2 separate regions of the Homo sapiens genome follow, and region 1 is linked to region 2. A link means that fine-mapping ties the variant in region 2 to the expression of a gene that starts in the linked region. Tissue or cell type: lung. Region 2 holds a variant in brackets; the other region holds the start of a gene. All regions are shown on one strand. Distances are between the middles of the regions.

The links. PIP is the estimated chance that this variant, and not a neighbour inherited with it, causes the effect.
Region 1: it holds the start of ADCY8, and the variant in region 2 is fine-mapped to the expression of ADCY8 in lung (GTEx, PIP above 0.99).

What each region holds. Positions count from the first base shown.
Region 1 is chr8:131,035,082-131,045,733 of GRCh38, reverse strand. It overlaps ADCY8 (adenylate cyclase 8), which reads left to right and starts at 4,825. Exons shown (of 18, transcript NM_001115.3): 1 at 4,825-6,360. The coding sequence starts at 5,401. LOC105375760 (a long non-coding RNA gene) reads right to left here and starts at 6,204. Exons shown (of 6, transcript XR_928653.3): 1 at 6,124-6,204. RefSeq lists enhancers at 4,547-5,085, 5,086-5,625.
Region 2 is chr8:131,185,244-131,195,895 of GRCh38, reverse strand. All of the region lies in intron 3 of LOC105375760 (a long non-coding RNA gene), which reads right to left. Among named protein-coding and RNA genes, the nearest start is that of IADEN, 120 kb to the left of the region's middle. The variant T/C (reference allele first, on the strand shown) is at 6,193.

The DNA.
Region 1 (10,652 bases), 150 kb after region 2:
TTTAATTCATAGAACTTTTCAAAGATGATCCCTATGTATCTAAGACATTGACATTTCCTGGAGTGCTGTCAAAGCAGCTGATACTTTTGATATTTCCTAAGAGTAATTCTTCCAGGCAAGGCAGGCATGTAATATTCCTTTAAGGATTTTCTACTTTGGAAGCTGCTTTGTCACAAACACCCTCCTTCCCTTTGGAAACAGGATCTCTCTGGTTTCATGTCCCCTTCCTGAACTGAGTCCATCTTTTCTTTTACATGTGAATATTTTATATGTCTTCAGTAAGTGTCAGAGTTTCTATGCGTACTTAGCAAAGGTTATGGCTCTTAAAAAATTTAAATTCATATATTAATATAATCAACCTAGGAAGTCAAAGGTACATCAAGGGAGAAAACAAATTTCCTTTTCTTAAACATATCTACTGTAAATGTGGCCAATGGTATGTAGCAACATCACTAAACAAATAAGTTATTTTCCAGTGAAACAATAGGATATTTCCCCCACCACCACAACTACCTAAATGAAATAAATTACACCAAGTTAAGTATTTTCGTTAAACTCAATTGTGAAAGTCTGGTTTTTTTCTATAAATTATAGAAATAGTGTCTAAGTTTTGAACAGAAACAGAATTAGTAGGCCCTCCATTCAAACAATAAAGAGTTCTACTACCTTCATCTGCGATTCAGGCTCATCCTAACAGATTTCTCAAAGTCTAAATGTCTCAGAAGTTTCTTATTTACTTTGCCTTTGAAAACTCAAAAAAGTGACATTTTTATTTCTATCAGTTACTGACTGCTTATGACAGCATTTTTATTGAGCATGTGGATGTCAGATTCCTGCAATACAACTTTAAGCATTGGATTTAACCACGAGATCCTGGGCAAGGTACTTAGCCACATGAAGCCTCGGTACTCAGTATCCTAGTCAGTAAGATGGAAATAATAAAATAGAGAAGGACCTAATTCACATAATTACTAGAATGATTAAATGGGACATTTGTAAAAAATCTTAAGAAAGAGCTGACACCTAGTAGGTGCTAAATCGTGGCTAACATTATTATTATCTTATTATCTCTATGTAAATTATAGTTGCTAGAAGTTGGGGGATATGGGCCCAAGGAAAATCAGTTTTTCGCTTCAGGGAGCTCACTGTTTCATGGGGAGGAGTGACAGATACATACGCCAATGGCTAGTCCCTGTATAAGGGACCATACCAAAAGTACCCATAACAGACTATTAAACAGAGAAGGAAGTCATTAGTTCTCAATGGGGATATCAGGAAAGTTCTCATGCAGAGACAACATTGCTCAAACTTTGAAGGATGAGGTAAGCAAGTATATTCAGGGAGGAATACAGGGGAAGAGGAGGAAGTTGTGTGCAAAAAGACACTGAATTGTTAAAACGCTGTCCTCAGATCACAGTAGAGACCCTGCCTTAATAAATATGCAGAGGATAAATGAAAGCATTATGAAAGATCTATCATAGCTTCAAAAGAATGTGTGGACTTCTCTTGATTTTTTCCCTTTCACTCTCTTTCTTTCTTTCTTTCTTCTTCTTTCTTTCTTTGACGGAGTTTCACTCTTGTCGCCCACGCTGGAGTGCAATGGCGTGATCTCGGTTCACTGCAACCTCTGCCTCCCGAGTTGAGGTGATTCTCTTACCTCAGCCTCCCGAGTAGCTGGGATTACAGGCATGCGCCACCACACCTAGCTAGTTTTTGTATTTTTAGGAGATAGGGGGTTTCACCATGTTGGCCAGGATGGTCTCATTCTCTTGACCTCGTGATCCGCCGGCCTCGGCCTCCCGAAGTGCTGGGATTACAGGCGTGAGCCACCGCCCCCAGCCGACTTCTCTTGTTTTAAGTGGCTCTTAATCATTTGGTGGTTTGCATATTCCAAAAAGCTTCTAAATATTTGTGTTGAACCAATGCTTTCATTCAAAAACAGAATGCTTCTTGGGCTGAATGGCACTATGTCATCCCAACAAGAAGAACATCGGAATCTAATTGTGTCATCCATGTTCTTATTTTAAAACAATCTACGGTAACACCCTTCCAGCCATGAAGCGTTCAGTCAGTTGAACAGATGTGATGTGTTCTCCCTGATGCATTAGCTTCAACCTCTGAGTTCATGAAATTGAGTTTCTTTCTGTAGCATGCTGTGTTCATTCATCAGCCTGAGTCATTTTATCTGATTGGGTCCAATCTCCCCCTCCTTGGCCCGCCTCCTTTTGCTGCTGAATAAATCATCCTGGGAGCTGTCCAGGTTGGAGAAAGATTTTCATAGGAAAGTTCCAACTGCATCCAGCCCCTCATTTATTCAGGCTGAGTCCTTAGGGCCCCAAGGAGAAAGAAGTGAGAAAATAAAGTGATGCCTTCCATTGCCAAGTTTGCTAATATGGTCATTAGCACAGATGCCTTCGGGCAATGCCCGCAGAGAGAGGACACAGCTACCCACACATTCTGGCATAGGGTCTATAGGACAGCCTTCCCAGCTGTGCTCCGTCTGGGTTCCCATCTCAAGTTAAGAGACTCATTACCCACCCGAGTTCCAGTAGGGTGAGGCTGATGAGTCCAAGAAATTCAGGAAGGAAGAAGCAAGAAGCATTTCTTTGACAGGAATGTAATTGCAGGGGTTATTTCATTAAGGGCTAGATAACTGTAACACAGAGTTGTTTGAGGTACTTTTACCCTTAACTTCCAGGCCCATGGGATAGGCCAACTATTCTGGGAGATCTTTAATGTTAACAGATTAATTCATCTACAAGCAGAGTTAAAAATAGAATCAGCCGTCTATCTATTTAAAGTTGAGCGTTTCATTTTGGCTTTCTTGGGGGATGGTAGAATACAACTTAAAAGGATTGAAATTAAAGAAGTCTTTTCCAGGGAGTGAACGAAATTCTAGAAATCTACTGGTTAGGGATTGGGGGGAATATTAGAGGATTCTTTTCTCTTCCTTCTGGAATTCTGTGTGCAAGGCAGGTGGCCCGTTTTGGGTTTAACCCGAAGCCGAAATGCGTGGGGAGAAAAACAGGAATTAAAAAGCAAAGAATTAAACCCCGCGTTTCTGGGACACGGCCGACAGAAATAACCCTGGAGACAGTGTATGTGGTTGGGGGTGGGGGTATCGAAATTATTTTTCCTTAGGACAGGCAGGAGGGAAGGGAGCTTCTCTTCTTGCTCAGGAGGGACTGAGGGGGCGGCAAGGCAAGGCGGTCATTTGGGCTTTCATGGGACGCCACGGGGAGCCGCGAACGCGCCCAGGGCCTGACGTCATTGGCCATCAGCTGACTGTGCTCTGGGCCCGGGCTCCACTGGCTGCAGCCGCAGTCTTGGTGGAGGAGGTGGTGACCACCACCGCTCCTCCACCTGCATCCGGCTGCGGGACTGCGGCGGCCGCGTTTGCCCTGCAGACCCTGCACCCCGGGACGCGGCTCATCTGTCATTAGCACCGGCACTAAGCTCCCACCGCTCAGCGACTTGGTCCGCCGCAAGCTCCGCCGCAGGCTTTGTCCGCTAGCGCTCGGCTGAGTCTGGGCGGGCGGGAAACCTGGGCTAGGGCGAGGCGGGGCCCCTGGACATGCCTTTCTCCACGTCCGCCTCCTCGACCCTATTGTAAGCGGAGAAACTTAGTGTGCGAGGCAGGCAGGGGACGTCCCCATTTTGATGTCCCGTACCCTCCACCCCCTTCGGATCGAGGTAGTAAAGAGGCTCCTGTAGGAAACTGACTGCCTCTATGATTGCGGCCTCTTGGGGGATTTTGCGTTTAGCCCGAAAGTTGGCTTTGCCAAAAGACGCACGGGTAGGAAGGGCGAAAAGGAAACCCTGTATTCCGTCGCGCTGGGCTCTCCGAGTCCGTGCGCAAAGCGGCCTACGAGTCCTGGCTCCGCACCTGCAGAGGACAAGAGCCAATGCCTAAAAAAGAACAGCGGAGGAACCGGCTGGCGCGGCCAGCTGGAACGCTGGATCGCAGTGCGCCCAGGGAAGGCCGGGGGCGCCCGCCGGCCCTAGCCCTCAGTGGTCCTCTCCCACGCCGGCCCGCGCGTGCCTCTGCCTACAAGACCTGGGGCGTCCTGGCCAGATCTGGATGGCAGGTCCCTCCGCCACCCCCGGCCCGGTTCCGGGGGCGTGGCTTGGCGCGGGGGCGGGTTTAAGTCACCGCGGGTGTCTGACCACTCTGACAGGTCTCCAAATTTCTCCCAGTCGCCTGGCGCCCGCGGTGCGTTTCAGAGCTCCAGGGTGGCACGCGGCGGCGCTTCCCTAGATCCAGAGGCGTCTCTGTCGACTTCCACGCGGCCTCGGGCCTCCCTTCTCCTCCAAACCTTCGCCTCATCCGCCAAGCTTCGGTTCTCAGCCTCAGATATCCGCACCGGCGGCTTCTCTTCGTTCTCGGAGCTCTTGGCTTTGGAGCCCTCACCACTTTTTCCTTCCCCCGCCTCTCCTGATCCTCCTAGCTCCGAGCCAAATGGACTCCAAAGAACGAAATAAAGGGGATGAGAACTGTGTGCTGCGACCCTTCGAAAGCACAGCTGAAAGCGTTGACCTCGTCTTATAGCTCAGGCTGGGACCCTGGAGCGAGAGTCCCCACACCCCCTCCGGGAGGGATGCTTCTGGCCAGAGCCAGCGCTGCGCTGTCAGTCCTTGCTCCCGAACTAGGAAAGAGCCTAGGAGGGAGCCTCAGCATACCCCTTCCTCCAAATTAACTATTTGGTGAATTGTTAGCGCCGAGGCTACCACCTCTCCAACCCTGTCGCGGGGCGCCCCGCCACCTCACCGTGACCCCCTCCTCCTCCTTCTTTGCCCCCGCCCCCAGCTCCGCCCCTGCTCCCCATCCCGGCGCAATGGAGTTCTCCGAAGGGCGATGATTCCAGCCACATCTGCTAACTTCGCACCCATCGCTGCCGCCGGTCACCGCCGGCCAGGCCCCCTGCAGCCGCGGAGCAGTGGGCGTCCAAAGCCCAGTGCAGCAGCCAGGACCCGCCCGACGCGCAGCAGAAGCACGGCGCCCAGGCGCTTAGGCGTCTCTTGGAGAGCAAAGGCTGCGCCAAAACGCTGAGCCTAGAATCAACCAAGGAGCCTGAGCCCAGGAAGGGGCTGCGTGGCTCACAGCGCTGCGGCTCCTGAGGACAAATAGCCACTGCCGCTGCGTACCCAAGCTGCGCCGGCTGGCGGGAGAGCAGCACGCAAGGACGCCGAGGTCCGCCGCGATCTTCCAGGTGCCCTTTGCCCCTGGGCACAGTATGACCCGACCTACAGGGAGCCCTAGCGCAGGGCTCCTGCAACGGGGCAGCCTAGGATAAAAAGGATCCTTGCCAAGCTCCTACCAGGCCGCCTTTGAGTCTTTAGGAACCCCTCCTCCGGCTGCCTCCCCAAGGTTCTGGGCCTCCTTCCCTGCGGCCCAGAGCCATGGAGCTCTCCGATGTGCGCTGCCTTACAGGCAGCGAGGAACTCTACACCATCCACCCGACGCCCCCGGCCGGCGACGGCAGGAGCGCCTCCCGGCCGCAGCGGCTGCTGTGGCAGACGGCGGTGCGACACATCACGGAGCAGCGCTTCATTCACGGGCACCGGGGAGGCAGCGGCAGCGGGAGTGGAGGCTCGGGCAAAGCCTCGGACCCTGCGGGCGGCGGCCCCAACCACCACGCGCCGCAGCTGTCAGGCGACTCGGCGCTGCCCCTCTACTCGCTGGGCCCGGGAGAGCGAGCGCACAGCACCTGCGGCACCAAAGTCTTCCCGGAACGCAGCGGGAGCGGCAGTGCCAGCGGCAGCGGAGGCGGGGGCGACCTGGGCTTCCTGCACCTTGACTGTGCCCCTAGCAACTCGGATTTCTTTCTTAATGGGGGCTATAGCTACCGAGGGGTCATTTTCCCCACCCTGCGCAACTCCTTCAAATCTCGGGATTTGGAACGCCTCTACCAGCGCTATTTCTTGGGCCAAAGGCGCAAATCGGAAGTGGTGATGAACGTGCTGGACGTGCTGACCAAACTCACTCTCTTGGTCCTACACTTGAGCCTGGCCTCGGCCCCCATGGACCCGCTCAAGGGCATCCTGCTGGGCTTCTTCACCGGCATTGAGGTAGTGATCTGCGCCCTGGTGGTGGTCAGGAAGGACACCACCTCCCACACGTACCTGCAGTACAGCGGCGTGGTCACCTGGGTGGCCATGACCACCCAGATCCTGGCAGCAGGCCTCGGCTACGGGCTCCTGGGCGACGGCATAGGCTACGTGCTCTTCACGCTCTTCGCCACCTACAGTATGCTGCCGCTGCCGCTCACCTGGGCCATCCTGGCCGGCCTGGGCACCTCGCTGCTGCAGGTCATCCTCCAAGTGGTCATACCCCGGCTGGCGGTCATTTCCATCAACCAGGTAACTCCTGCCTGCCTTGCATTTGTTTCCCCTCTAACTTCCCCGGGTTATTGATCATATAGCTTCCAGAGAGCCAGGGTTGCCTCACTCTCTTTAAGTCTCCGCCTTCAGTCTGGCACAGTGCCTTGTACCTAGGAGGTCTTGAGTGTTAGCGGAATGCAATCTCTTCTTAAAGTGGAACTAAATGACCTCTAAAAGTTTCTACCAACTCTACCCTTCTACTCTGATTCTATGAGTAATTCTACTCTGACATCAGCTAAGAAAGTCTGCTTTCTGCTCCTCATTCCCCTCCCTCAGGGTCTGCAGTCTCCGGAGCAGGAGACAGAAGGGGAGGAGAAGCATCCAGATTTAGAAGGTGACCCATTCCTTAACATCTCTCCTCAGGAGAGTCGCAGCAGGGTGTTGTAGCAGGCTCTGGGCTTCAGAGTTGGGTTTTTCCGTATCTCTAAGCCACAAACCCTCAGTTCTCAAAGGAACATACATTTGTTAAACACATACTGATTGTCAGTGCTGAGTACTGTACGTGTTATGTCATCCAATCCTTCAAACAATCCTATGACACATGGTTTTCTCGGGAATTTTTTATTGCCTTGGTGACCAAACATGATATCTTCTCTCATGACACGATGCGACCCCAGTGCTTTGAATAAACCAACCTCAGTAATTGGGGGTGGCAAAGAATGCAAGTTTTGATTAATTGGAAAAGGGCATTTTGATGTAGATGCTTTAAATATTATATTTAGGTGGAATCTTGTTCTTTAGGTATCTTTCCCTCCTTTCTCCTCCTTTTTTTTCTATTCTTCCCCTTAAATATGGATATGCTTATGTGAACAAAGTTCACATTGTCTATGGATGAGAAAGTAGACAATGTTTCTATTGTTTAAATTTACTAGAACCAATAGCTAATTAATGGCATGGCACTGTCTTTGCAAAATGTATGGTAGGTAACAGGAGAGTGACTTTGGGGGTTTCTCAAAAATGAGGGAAACATGTCAAGTGAAGTGTTTTCAAACAGATGGCTGGTGTGAGATGCATGGTCAGGGGGCTGCTTTGTATGGGCCTGCTCTGTCGTTAGCCTCTGTATCATTTTTGCTGTATTAGAAGCTTAAAACTCCTCTTCCTTATGGTCGAATTTGAATAGATGATGCTTAGAATAAACAGGCACGACCCCACTGAAAATTGTTCATGATGTTTAGATTGCCAGCACTGTTAGAGTGCTTCACCCATCACTGGCCTCCTGGACTTCTGGTCAATGTGGGATCCTGTCTCTTCTCCAATGGTTCTATATTCCTTTGCTCAGGTGACTTATCTGGTTGGCTGCTTTTACAGTGCTTTCTGAAGTCTCTCTGGGTAAAGCAAAGAGTTTATAAATTACATGCCTGTGATTATCAAGCATGAAATGGAGAGATGAGAGACTCTGAGTAAGGGTTGATTGACTGAACTTTTTCTTATTAAAGACAATAATGAGTGTTTTATCACAGTCACCATGAACCTTCATATCTACATATAACAAATAAGTCTCAATCTGGGAAGTGGAAGTCAAATTCTTTGGTATTAACTATTTCTCAATCCTGTTTACATGAAGATCTACATGCCAGTACATCTAAATCTACTTTCTTCCAAGCTCTCTCATTCTCTTTTTTATTTTTCTTTGTTGTATACATAGACATTAGCAGATCTTTTCTTCCCTGTCTTCCTCCCCTTCCTCCTTCTTTTTCCTTCTCTTTGCCTTCTCTTTTTTTCATCTAACTCACTATGAGTTGTTTTCACGATAAAGCATAGCTATCTGATCATGTATAAGAAATTCCATGTATTATAACCCACTACTTTTCACGCAATAGCCTTTCTCAGTACACACAACTAGAAAACTTAATAAGTAAGTTTGGAATAGTATTTAGAATAACACATCCTAAGTGGCAAATTATGAGTGTTTTCAAAGTTCTAAGTATAGATATATTTTTCTTGCCAAGTGAATCCAGAAAGTAAATTTTGGCTCCATATTTGTTTTATATTCTACTCAAATACTACCAGATGGGAGAAGATTAAAAATAACCCCCAAATGTCTTCCCACCCTCATCTCATCATAAACAATTCTCCACTGTGAAATCCAAGGTCCTGATGCATGTAAACTAAGCTCATTCAATTTTTTGTTTGGGTAAGAATTACAGATAAACTACGATTTCATAGGTTGAGTCACCTTTTACCAAAACTCTAAAAGAACAACCAGAGCGCTCTCCCCTCACTTCAGTGCTGAAAGGGCTTTTAAAGGTCCTTTGGCGCCCTCTATTGGCTTAAGAGTCTTTCCTAGATCGCGCAGATGGACGAAGTAGAGAATAAATCGCTTTTTATAAGAATCTGTGATTTTTGAATAGGTACTATTTAGTTTTCCATGTCTGGTAACACATAAGGAATGCTCAAAACCTGCTAAACACTTCTTATAGCAACTCGAGTAAAATCCTAACTTCTTACCACAGCATGCTTGATTCTCTGAGCTAGTTGCTTCTTCTCTCTCCAACCATATTTCCCTCTCTTCTCTTCTCTTGTATTCTCTTCATTAGGCTCCAAATATGCTATTCATTTTTGCCATATTCCAAGCTCTTCCTAATTCTGGGTCTTTTCACCTGCTACCTAGAGCAACTTTTCCCAAGTCTTTATAAGACTGGCACATTCTCATTGTTCCAGACTCTCAAATGCTACTTTCTCTAGTAAACGACTTGTTTCATTTTCTCCAGAGCACATCTGCTATCTGAAATTATCTTATTTGTTTATATCTACTATGTTTCTCCCCACACCCTCACAAGAATGTAAACACCATAAGGGCAAGGATGTTGTCTATCATAAATAGCATTTTATCCTCGGCCTGTAGAAAAATGCCAGACATATAGCAGGTACTCAACAAACAGTCACTGAATGAAGAAGACAATTCATCATATAGGAAATATTATAAAATATCCAAGTGCCCTGATGTTGTGTTGGTGAAAGCTTTCTATACACACACACACATACACATCATATGTGTGTAACGCAGTCTTACACGTAAACATCTTCTAAAGAAATCAAAAACAATAATAATCCTTTACTTTGCACAGTATTTTACATGTAACTAAGCACCCTTATGTGCATCATCATATCTAATGATGAAAAATAGATGGTATCATCCTTCATTTTCATTTCAGAGAAAAAAATGACAGAATCCTAGAAACTTTACAGTGATACCCTGAGGATCAGGAACCTGGCAAGTGGAGGACAGAATTCAAACCCTGACTCTGATGCCAATTATTCTTCAGAAACCCTTTAGTGATTATCCTTCTAAACATGTAAGCATTTGAAACTATTAAAGACTGAGGAGTACTTCTTTTACTACTTAAGAGAGTTAAATAAACATTTAACGAAGAAGCCAAAGGGAAATTATGAGAGAAAAATGAGTGAATTGCTGGGCATAGGCTCATTGTAGCTAGCTCATCATTCTGCTTAGCTAGATACAAATCTGTCAACTAAAAGCCATAAACACTGGAATAGCATCTTTCTCCACATTAATCTTCATTCTCTTTAGGAGGATAGCTAATGTTTAACTTAGCATTTTCAGGATTTAGGAAACGAAAATGGGAGTATAGAGTTAGCACACCTTGGCAGCTGTTTCACTTCACTGAAAATGTCATTTTTGAAAGGAACAAATGAGCCAATGATTGCCTTCCTTTAATCTAAGCTATGAGAATCTGCTTTCCCTCTTTCTACCCTGAAGGAAATGACATCTGTGACTTGACAGGGTAGCAACCACACTGAAAATCTCTGCAGACACCCTATATGAAGAGACAAAGCCCTGTGTTTATTGAATCACCATTTGCTTTCCACTGTGGATACAAAATGGAACCTAAAAGGGGCCACTCAGGAAATTCCCTGCCATCAGCAAAGAGATGGTTTATGTTTTCTCTACTCAATTAACACACTACAAACATTGACTTCCCACCCAACAAAGAGATTATTGTCTAGAGCAGACATAATCACCCATATGTTTTCTGCATCTGGAGTGGCATCGGAAAGACCGAGAAACTTTCAGAAGGCTCAAAACCCAGTTTGAAGGGTTCCTTTTATTTCACTCTGACTTAGCTCAGCTATAGGTAGCACTAGGGCTACAATCGTTTCTTTCTTATGAAACCGCACCCAATCCAAGTTAAATAAGCCTCAAACCAATGATAGGAATACCTTGTCCAGATTTTCCTAAGACACTGGTTTATTTTTTCCACATCATAAACCAATTGTTTGTATCACCAATTCGATTTATCCACCAGGAA
Region 2 (10,652 bases):
CACAGGAAGAATTAAAACCATATAAGCAGGATATTATTGAAGAATACACAAAGTTAAACATCTGGAAACATGGAGGAGACAACCTGTGATCCTAAAAAAATTTAAGTAACCAAATAAATGCAGGGAAAAAGAAGAAAATGTGGGGAAAGATCAGACAGGACAAATATAAAACAAAAAGAAAGATGCTCAATTTTAACCAAAACATCAATCATTATATTAAGTATAAATAACATAAATACCCTAATTAAAATCAGAGATTGATAAACTAGATTAAAATGTCATAAGGACCAACTACGTGCTGCCCACAACAAACACAGGCAAAAATGAACACACTCATAGGTCAAAAATGAATGAAAAAAGATTTATCATGCAAACACTAATCAAAAGTCCGAAGTAGCTATATCAATAAAAGACAATGTAGATTTCAAAGCACAGAATATTATCATTTCATAATAATAAAGAAGCTCATTTTATAATGATAAAGGGATAACTTCATCAAGAGAACCTAACAATCTTAAGCTTTTAGCCACTTAGCAAAATATGGGTTTCAAAAACATGAAGAATTGAAAGAAGAGATGGGCAAATCCACACTTACAGATGAATATTACAGTACTCCATTCTCAGTAATTAATAAAGCAAGTAGATAGAAAATCACTAAGATTTTAGAAGACTTGCAAAACACTATCAACCAACATGACTTGATTGACAATTTAGAAAACTCTGCCCAACAATAGCAGAATTCACAATCTTTTCATGTGCACATGGAACTTACCAACATTACTATGCCCTGTCCTATAAAATGAATCTCAATAAATAACACTTTGATATCATACAAAGTATGTTAATTGGCACCATGGTACTAACTCAGTTACAGAATGGTATCTGGAAAATCCTCAAATTCAACATATTTGGAAAGTAAATAACATGTTTCTAAGGATGACTCAATGAAATAATCAAAATAGAAGTCAGATATCATTGTGAACTGCATAAAAGTAATGGCAAACATATCAGAATTTGTCGGGTGCTGACAATGCATAGAGAAAAATTTATACCACTAAATGCTTTCATATGATAAAAAGAATGGTCTCAAATCAATGACCTCAGATTACATCTTGAAAATCTAGACAAATAAGGCCAAATTCAAAGCAAAGTAAGCAGAATAAAGAAATAATAAAGATCAGAGTGAAAATCAATGAAATAGAATACAAAAATAGATAAAATTAATAAAACCAGAAGTCAATTTTTTGATCAAAATCATGAAACCTGATAAACATCTAGCCATATTTATCCAGCTGAAAAAGTGGAAACAAATTCCCAACATCAGGAGTAAAAGGTTTAAAATGGATACAGATTACAGATATTTTTAAAAGTTAATAAGAGAATATTAAAACATTATGTCAAAAATCCCATAACGTAGGTGAAATTGACAGCTATTTTAAATACACAAACTACCAAAGCTCACATTGTAGCCCAAATGGTCATTAATAAATTTAACTTTATATTTAAAACCTATTCAATATAAATTTTTCCAAAATAATTGAAGAGGAGGAAATACTTCACAACTAATTCTATTTGGTTTCCCCATAACCAAAATCAGACAAGGACACTATAAATAAATAAAAGCCCAGATTAATAACTCTTATGAATGTCAATGGAGTTATTAATAACAAAATTTTAGCAAAGACATACAAAAGTTATATGACCCAGTAGCTTATTCTAAGAATGCAAGGTTGGTTTAACAGTAAAAGACTAACAAGTATATGTCAGTATCTCAACAGAATAAAGAAAGAGCTGTATGATCATCTCCATAGTTACATAAAAACTATTTGAGAAAATACAACATCTATTCCTCATTTAAAAAAAAAAAAACATTCAGCAAATAAAGGGAAAACAAACTTCCTAAAACATCATAGATAAAGATGTAAAAATTGAACATTTTTTCCAGCGATGAGGAGAAAGGCAAAGATGCTCATGCTAACCCCTTCTGTTCAACATTTTACTGGATGTTCTAGTCATTGTAAAAATACATGAAAAGAAATTACAGGTATACAGATTCCAAAGAAAGAAGTAAAGCTGTCTTTATTCCCAGAGAACATGATAACATATGTAAAACATTTACTGGTGTCTATAAAATCATCTTCTAAAATTAATAAGTGAGTTTAACAAGGCCGAAGAATAAAAGCAATATATAAATAATCGTAACTTTGTATATTATGAATAAGCAATCAGAAATTTAAATTTAGAAAGCAATTGCTTTGCACTGCACTCCAGTTTGTGAATTTGTTTCCCACAGGGTCATGGGCTAAAAATTCTGGTGCTTTATACATTTATACCAGAATTGAACAATTAAGTAAATGAATGGCAAAAACTGGTTTCTCAGTGTTACAGTATAAGTTTACAGATAAGCAAGGAGAGGAGGCCAGAATGGCCCATATGGTAATGCATTAGAATTGGAGACATCAGTATTAGCTCATATTTAATTTAATAAATATAGATTATTACATATAGGAATATAGATATGCATATATGTGCAAATTAGAATATAACCATATATGGTTATTTTCTTTCTCTGTCACCTGAGAGGACCTAGAAATAATAATACCCAGCAGCAGTAACCATACCTAGCATGCACAATTCAGATTCTAATACCATTCTCAAATGAAAGGAATTCAGTCTTCTTGGAGAAATGGCTGATTCTAGAACTGGGGCAGGAAATATATGAGATTTGAAATATCTTGTGGTACTAGAAAGAAAGAAGTCACTTGAAAATAAAACAACACACAGTACACTGATGGGATATGACAAAGAGACACTAACTGAAAGTGCTCTTAGTGGCCAAAAATGTAATAATCAGAGCAATAAATAAATACATGGTATATATAATATGATATAGTATATGTAATACAAAGTAGTATCAGATTATAAACAAAAGAATAAAATAAATATCCATGAGTCCATAGTGATATAACTAAATAATAAATAAATAAATAAATTACAAGAGATACATCTCACATGCAGAAGACTTATAAATAATTTACATAGATATTTCACCTTAAGGAAGTGGAGCATTCCCATTCATTAATGTGGGCTAACCGTAGGGAATCCCTTTCAAAAAGTACAGTATTCATAAAGTAAAAAAAAGAATAACTTTACCACGGATTGCAATAGAATGATGCTTTACAAAATACCAGACCACTATGCCTCAAAACTGCCAGTTTTATCAAAAATTAAAAAAAGTCTTAGAAACTGTCACAGCCAAGAGGGGCCTAAAAAGATATAATATGTACATATAATGAGATATACTGGCTGAGAACCTAGAACAGAAACAATACATTAGATGAAAATGAAGTGTATTAGTCTGTTTTCACCCTGCTATAAAGATACCACCTGAGACTGGGTGATTCACAAACAGTAGAGATTTAGTTGACTCACAGTTCTACATGACTGGGAGGCCTCAGAAAACTTATAATCATGGTGGAAAACGAAGGAGAACTTTACAATTCTGTAACAATTTGACATACTTTGAAATAAGTCTAAAAAAGAAGTGTAAAACTTGTGCACTGGAAACTATAAAACATCACCGAGAGAAATTAAAGAAGTCTTAAATGAAGAGATAGATACGCTGTGTTCATGTGTCGGCAGACTCGGTAGCTAAGACATCAAATGTTCATAATTAACCCACAAATCTAATAGAATTTCAATCAAAATTCCAGAAAGCTTTTTTTTTAATTGACAAACTGATTCTAAACACCATATAATAATGCAAAGGACTTAGTAAAGCTTAGGCATCCTTGAAAAGAACAAAACTTGGAGGACAAATACTACCTGATTTCAATAATTCAGAGCTACAGTAATTGCGAGAGAATAGTGATAACATCAAGACGGACACACTTATCAATAGAAAAAAATAGAAAATACAAAAATAAACGCATACATATATGCACAACTGATTTTCAACAAAGATGTGGACGCAATTCAGTAGAGGAAAGATAGCTTTCTTAGTAAATGGTACCCAAAGAACTAGTAAATGGTACCCATATGCAAAAAAAATTCACTTCGAACCAAATTTTGCACCATCCATGAAAAATAACTCAAGATGGATCATAAACCTCAATGTAAAACCTAAATCTATAAAATTGCTGGGGGAAAACATAAGAGAAAAATATCTTACCTTGAAAACTATGGCTGATAAATTTTATAAATTATAAATTGAACTTTATAAATTTGAAAACTTCTGTTCTTATGTCTCATTGCCCAGAGCTTAGTTATATGGTCTCACAAAGCTGCAGGAGAGTTTAGATAACACAGTTGCAATTCTGGGATGCCATGTACCCAGATAATAATTCTCTTACAATGGAAGAAGAAATGAATGGAGAAAGGGCACAACTCTTGGTCCCTGTCACAAATACTAAACACAAGTTAAACCTACAGAAGTCAACAAAATTATGTTTTTTCCATATTAGTGCTCCAGTGCTTTGGTTGAAATATTTATATATTCTTTCTATTATTTAAAAGTTAATTTTATATCATACTTTAAAAATAAAACTGAAAGAAGGCAAAACAAAAAGCAAAAACCCTCCTATAACACTGTCCCATCCTAAGATAATTTGCCTCTTTTATGTAACTTGAATAGTATTGTTGATGTCATCTGTCCTCCCAGACTTTCAGTCCCATTCCATAGTTAGCCCTGCATAGGACCTGGCACAGAGTATTTGCCTCACAGTTTTCTAATAAAAGCATTAACAAATGAATGAAAACAATCTGAATGTCCACAATAGCAAATGACTGCTAAGAGTAAAGTAATGGTTCAACTTTTTTAGGCATCTAATCCATGACAAGCGTTGCACGATATATAGCAGCTCATGATAACCGCACACAACAAATCTTTAGTCACTATTGTCTTATTTTAAAGATGAGAAAAACAGAGGTTTAGAAACTTTTAGTTAATTGTCCAAGTTTGGTATGCTATTAGAAAGCAGTGGTCAGATGTTACTTTAACAACACTGGATGAACTTGCCTAAGTACTAAGTAAGTGAACTTGGACAACTCGTTCTTTATTTTCCTGATAGGAAAGAAAAGAGGGCTGCATTGTGTGCAGGAAAATAGAGTGAGAAAAGAGGTCTGCACTGTGTGTGTTATCTCTATGACCATTTGTTATGTCTGTTACATATGACTTAGCCTATAGGTGGCATAACTTCTCTGGATAATAAGAAGCCCGCTTTCATCCGCCTCAAAAATGCCCAACCCTGTGTTCCCCATCATCTAGACTGTTTATTGCATCAAGTTTTGATAGGTGTCACCTACCTTCTCTTTCACAAACTTTGGGACCTTGTGCAGATGGTACCCCTAACATCTGAAAAAGCAGAAGCATGTCTCCAATTTTGCATAGAACATATTTTCCCATTATGAAAGAGAGAGAGACACAGTAAGAAACAACTTGGAAACAGTGTAATGACAACAACTAATCTGATTATATGTAAAGAAACAAACACTTTCACTCTTATTCCATCTGAGGATAAGACAACAGAACTCTTTACCTCAGGTCAGAGAAAGGAAACAATAAATAATGTAATGTATTATACATCTGTTGCCCTTGATAAAAAAGCACCATTGTGACACTTATAAAGGATTCTTTTATTTTTTGCATTACCTTGGGAGGAGAGAAGGAAATGTCCCTAGTCTCTTTTCTGAAATGCATTTATGCAATGTACCACTGAGGTGTGGAGGACAAGGATTTGGTAAACCCCAGGACTCTACCTTTCACTAAGTCGGTTGTGATTCTTGGGATTGTTACATCAGATTTTCTTAAAGAGTCTCTGTGTTGGTACATACAGCATTTGATTAATTGAATAGGAATCATATTTTCAGTAAGAAGACTAGGGAAATGTTTGATTCTGAGGAGCACTAGGACACAGAAAGAGCCCTTCCACACAGTCAGAAGAGGAGGGATAGATCCCAGGCTCTGGATATATCAGTGACCACAAACATCTCAACTTCTGTCAGCCTCAATTGACCCACAGTTTAGTTAGCAGAACAGTTGCAAGTCAGTTTCAGTTTTTAGAATTCCCTGAAAATTTTGGATTATTAAGCTTGAAATAACGTCATATGTATTTTATCCCTTAAAGATACTTTTACCACCTATTAAGCCCTTTCTTCAGGCCAGGTACTAGGCTAAATACATATATAGTCTCA[T/C]TTAAGCCTTATAAGTACCCTGAGAGGTAGGTGTTATTCTAAGTTCTTCATATAATTGATGAAGGGACCTAGACTCCAAGCAGTAAGTAATTGTTCCTGAGTCACACAGCAAGAAAATTGGTAGACTCTAGATTTGGATACAGACAATGTGAGCAAACACGAAATAAGTAAATAGGAGAGCCACACAAACAGCTATGGGGAACAACAGTAGGGGGACTGACAATGTCCTATGGAGTGTGTCTTGATATCGTTTAATCTAGGTCAGCATTTCTCAAAGTGCACTCATTCATAAGCCTACTTCACTATGCTTTCTAGATCCTTCAGCTAACTGGCTATCTTGATGGTTCTGACAATCTACTTTGGTGTCTTGAGATGGCATTTACCTGGTCATAAGCACTGATAGTTGTAAAATCACAATTATCAGTGCTTATGGAGATACCAGTTATATTTTAAAGTAGAAAGCTAGAGAGAATTATTTTAAAACACATTAAACACATACTCATCAAAAAAATTCTGTCCTTCTTCTAAAATTGTTTTGAATATAAGCTCTGCACTTTGGGAAGTTTCAGACTTGCTAATACTGAGCCTTCAATAAAGTTGTCAAATTGTATTAAATATGTTCTTTCTTCACAGTGAAAGACTTTACACCCAAATAGTGAGTTATTCTACCTGCTCCAAATTACAGTCCCTCTCCTCAAACACTCTATAACAGAAAAAGCAGTAGATAGAATGCAGGTAGGTGCTAAGGTTACAGAGGGACAGGTCCCGCAAGAATTTTACCTAGAGAACAGGAAGCTGTTTCCCTGTTAACCTGCAATTGATGAGTCAGACACTTGCTGAGTTACTGGAAAGAGTGACATTCCCATGACAAAGCCAACTAAAGATGAGCCTTGCCCAAGTGCACAAGTGAAGATGAAGGTTAAGTATATCCTTGAGGAAGTGTCATTCAAGAATAGACCAGCAAGAGCAGAGAGAGAATGAAAGACATAGAGCTGATTCAGCTGCACCTGGAGGAAGTTAAGGTGGCTTTCCTGAGAGACCAATGCTCTGCCTTGGGGTTTCAGCTAGTTCTTTAAGGAGGAGTAACTCTAAGCTTACATCAGATCCTCCCATAGAACTTTAGCAAATTTGGAATATGTATTTGCATACATGAACAAAATAGAAAGATATATTGAGCCTTCATCTCAGAATGTGGATGACAAATCCTTATTTTAGTCTTTATAAAATCTGAGGTTGAAGAAACCCTCCAGGCATTGTAGACAGATATGTGCAATGGATATAATGTACACTTGTTGTAAATTTTGTTGCAGTGTCCAGAATGACAAATCTGTTAAGAAGTTCCCTCATATTGAAGAATAAGACTCGTTTCTCACTAAACTTGCCACACATTGCCCTGATATAGACAAAGGGTAGAAAGTATCAAATATATGAGAACATTTTAAATGAAAGAAAAAGAAAAATTTGTAAATGAAATTTTACTAAGATTTATTTGTGTGAATTGAGAAAAACGAAATCAGAAAGTACTAGTTACAAAGTCGGGCTTGGGAGTCTGCCCTGTTTGTTTCTGACTCAATGACAAGTTTACTAACTAACTGATCTTTGGCTAATTGCTTAACATTTCAAAACCTCAATTTACAGGAAAATTTAGTACAATAATACCATCAAACCTCATAGAGTTACAGTGAATTTTAAATGAGATGACAAATTTTTAGTAGAATGCCTGAAAATAGCAATCATGCATTAAAATAAGGCAGGGTTTCTCCTATGTTTACACCACAACACTTAGGTCCACATTCTTTATGAGAGTTCCAAAGAAACCTAGTATGCAAATCTCAATGGTTCTGACAGTAATTGAGTTCTATAATTTAATAAATAGCAGTGTATCCTCAGGTACCTTTTAGAACGTTTGTGAAAATCACATGGAAAAATCAATAATAGCAGAAATGATAAGAAAGTTTCCTCAACATAGCTTTGTGCTTGTTTTCCATTTCAAAGCATTTTCATACCTCTTATCTAGTGGAACATCAAATAATTAGGAGGCTTAAAATAGATATGATCCTTTTATTTTACAGATGACATGAGCCGAGTCAAAACACAGATAAAGGGCTAAAATCAAGAAATTCTAAAATGCAAAATGACTTACCCAAAGTCAATATAAGTAAATGGTAGAGCTGGAGGTATAAGAGAAATGGAGAAGGTATTAACACATCCTACGACCTCACAAAAGAACACTGAGTTTCATTTTACAGATGGTGAGTTCCACTTTACAGATTTTATGTGTCAACTTGACTGGGTTAAGAGATGCTTAGAGAGCTGGCAAACCATTATTTCTGGGTGAATCCATGAGGGTGTTCTGGAAGAAATCAACATTCGAATCAAAAGACTGAGTACAGAAGATCCACCCTCACAGATGTGGGTAGATGTCATATATCCACGAGGGCCCTGATAAAGCAAAAATGAAAAGCAAGAGTGAATTTACTCTCTCTCTTCTTGATCTAGTAAATCCATCTTCTCCTGCTCTTGGGAATCAGAGCCCTGGTTTTTGGGACTTTCAACTCCAGGACTTACATCAGTTGTCCCTCCTCCCCCAACCTCACCACCCAAGGCCTCACTAAGACTGGGAGTTACATCAAACTGAATTACAGTGCTGGCTTCCCTAGTTATAAAGCTTGCAGACAACAGATCATGGGACTTTTTGGCCTCCATAATTCTGTGAGCCAATTCTCACAGTAAGTCTCTTCATATCTATGAGCCTGTAAAAGTCTCTAGGAAGAGCCTATCAAGTCTCTTCCACCTATGAGCCTGTAAAACCAAAACCAGGTTAGTTACTTCTAAGACATAATGAGGACATAGGCATTGGGTAAATATTTCTGTTCTAAAAGGGAGAAATTGGCCAAAAGAAAAGGGCTACAGGCCCCACGCATGTTCAAAATTCAGCAGGGAAGTTGTTAAATCTTAAAGTTCCAAAATAAACTTTAATTCCATGTCCTACATCCAGGGCACACTGGTGCAAGGGGTGGGCTTCCAAGGCTTTGGGCAGCTCTGCCTCTGTGTCTTTGCAGGATTCAGAGGGCTGCTGTTACAAATTGGGAGTGAATGCTTGTAGCTTTTGAGATGCAGGGTGCAAGCTGCCAGTAAATCTACCAATCTTGAGTCTGGAGGATAGCAGCCTTCTCCTCACAGGTCCACAAAGCAGTGCCCCAGTGCGAATTCTGTGTGAAGGCTCCAACCCCATATTTCCCCTAGGTACTGCACTAATACAGGTTCTCTGTGGTGCCTCTGCATCTGCAGCAGGTTTCTGCCTAGGCACCCACGCTTTTTCATATAACTTCTGAAATCTAGGTGAGGCTACCAAGCGTTCACTCTTGCACTCTGCGGGTTGCAGACTTAACACCACATGGAAGTTGTCAAGGCTTAGGGCAGCTTAATCTCTCCAGAGGAGTGGCATGAGCAGTATCTGGGGATACTTTGAGCTGAGGATGGAGAAGGAACAGCCAAGATAAGGGGAGCAGTATCCCAAAGCTGCACAGGGCAATGGGTCTGAAACTATTTCTCTTCTGAAACCATCCTCTCCTCCTAGGCCTGAGAGTTTGTGATGAGAGGGGCTGCTGCAAAGGTCTCTGAAATGCCTTCAAGGCCTTTTTTGCATTGTCTTGGCTATCAGCACTCGGATCCCTTTTAGTTATGCAAACATCTCTAGCAAGTGGTTGCTCCATGTCTTGCTTGAATTCTTCTCCTGAAAATTGGCATTTCTTTTCTACCAAATGGCCGGGTTGCATATTTTCCAAAATTTTATGTTATGCTTCCCTAAGTTTCAGCTTTAAGTCATTCCTTTGCTCCTGAATCTGAGCAGAGGCCCTTAGAAGCAGCCAGGCCACATCTTAAACATTTTGCTTCTTAGAAATTTCTTCCAGCAGATAGTGAATTATCACTGTCAAATTCAAACTTCCAGAGATCCCTACAGTATGAATAGTATGCAGTCAAGTTCTCTGCCAAGGCATAACATTCATGACTTTTGCTTCAGTTCCTAGTCATTTCCTCATTTCCTTCGGAGACCTCAGCAGCCTGGACTGTCTACATCACTATCAGCACTTTGGTCAAAACTATTTTTCCAATCTCTAAGAAACTGCAAACTTTCCCTCAACTTCCTATCTTCTTATGAGCCCTCCAATTCTTCCAATCTCTGCTCAGGTATCTTTATTGCAATGCCCCATCCTTAGTACCAATTTTCTTTATTAGGCTATTCTTTTAATTATATAAAAATATCTGAGATGGGTAACATATAAGAAAAGAGGTTTTATTGGCTCATGGTTCTGCAGGCTTTACAGAAAGCATAGTGGTATCTGCTTCTGGAGGGGCCTCAGGAAGCTTCCAATTATGGCAGAATGTGAAGGGAGAGCAGGCACATCACTTGGCAAAAGCAGAAGCAAAAGAGAAGTAGGGGAGGGAGAGAGAGAGAG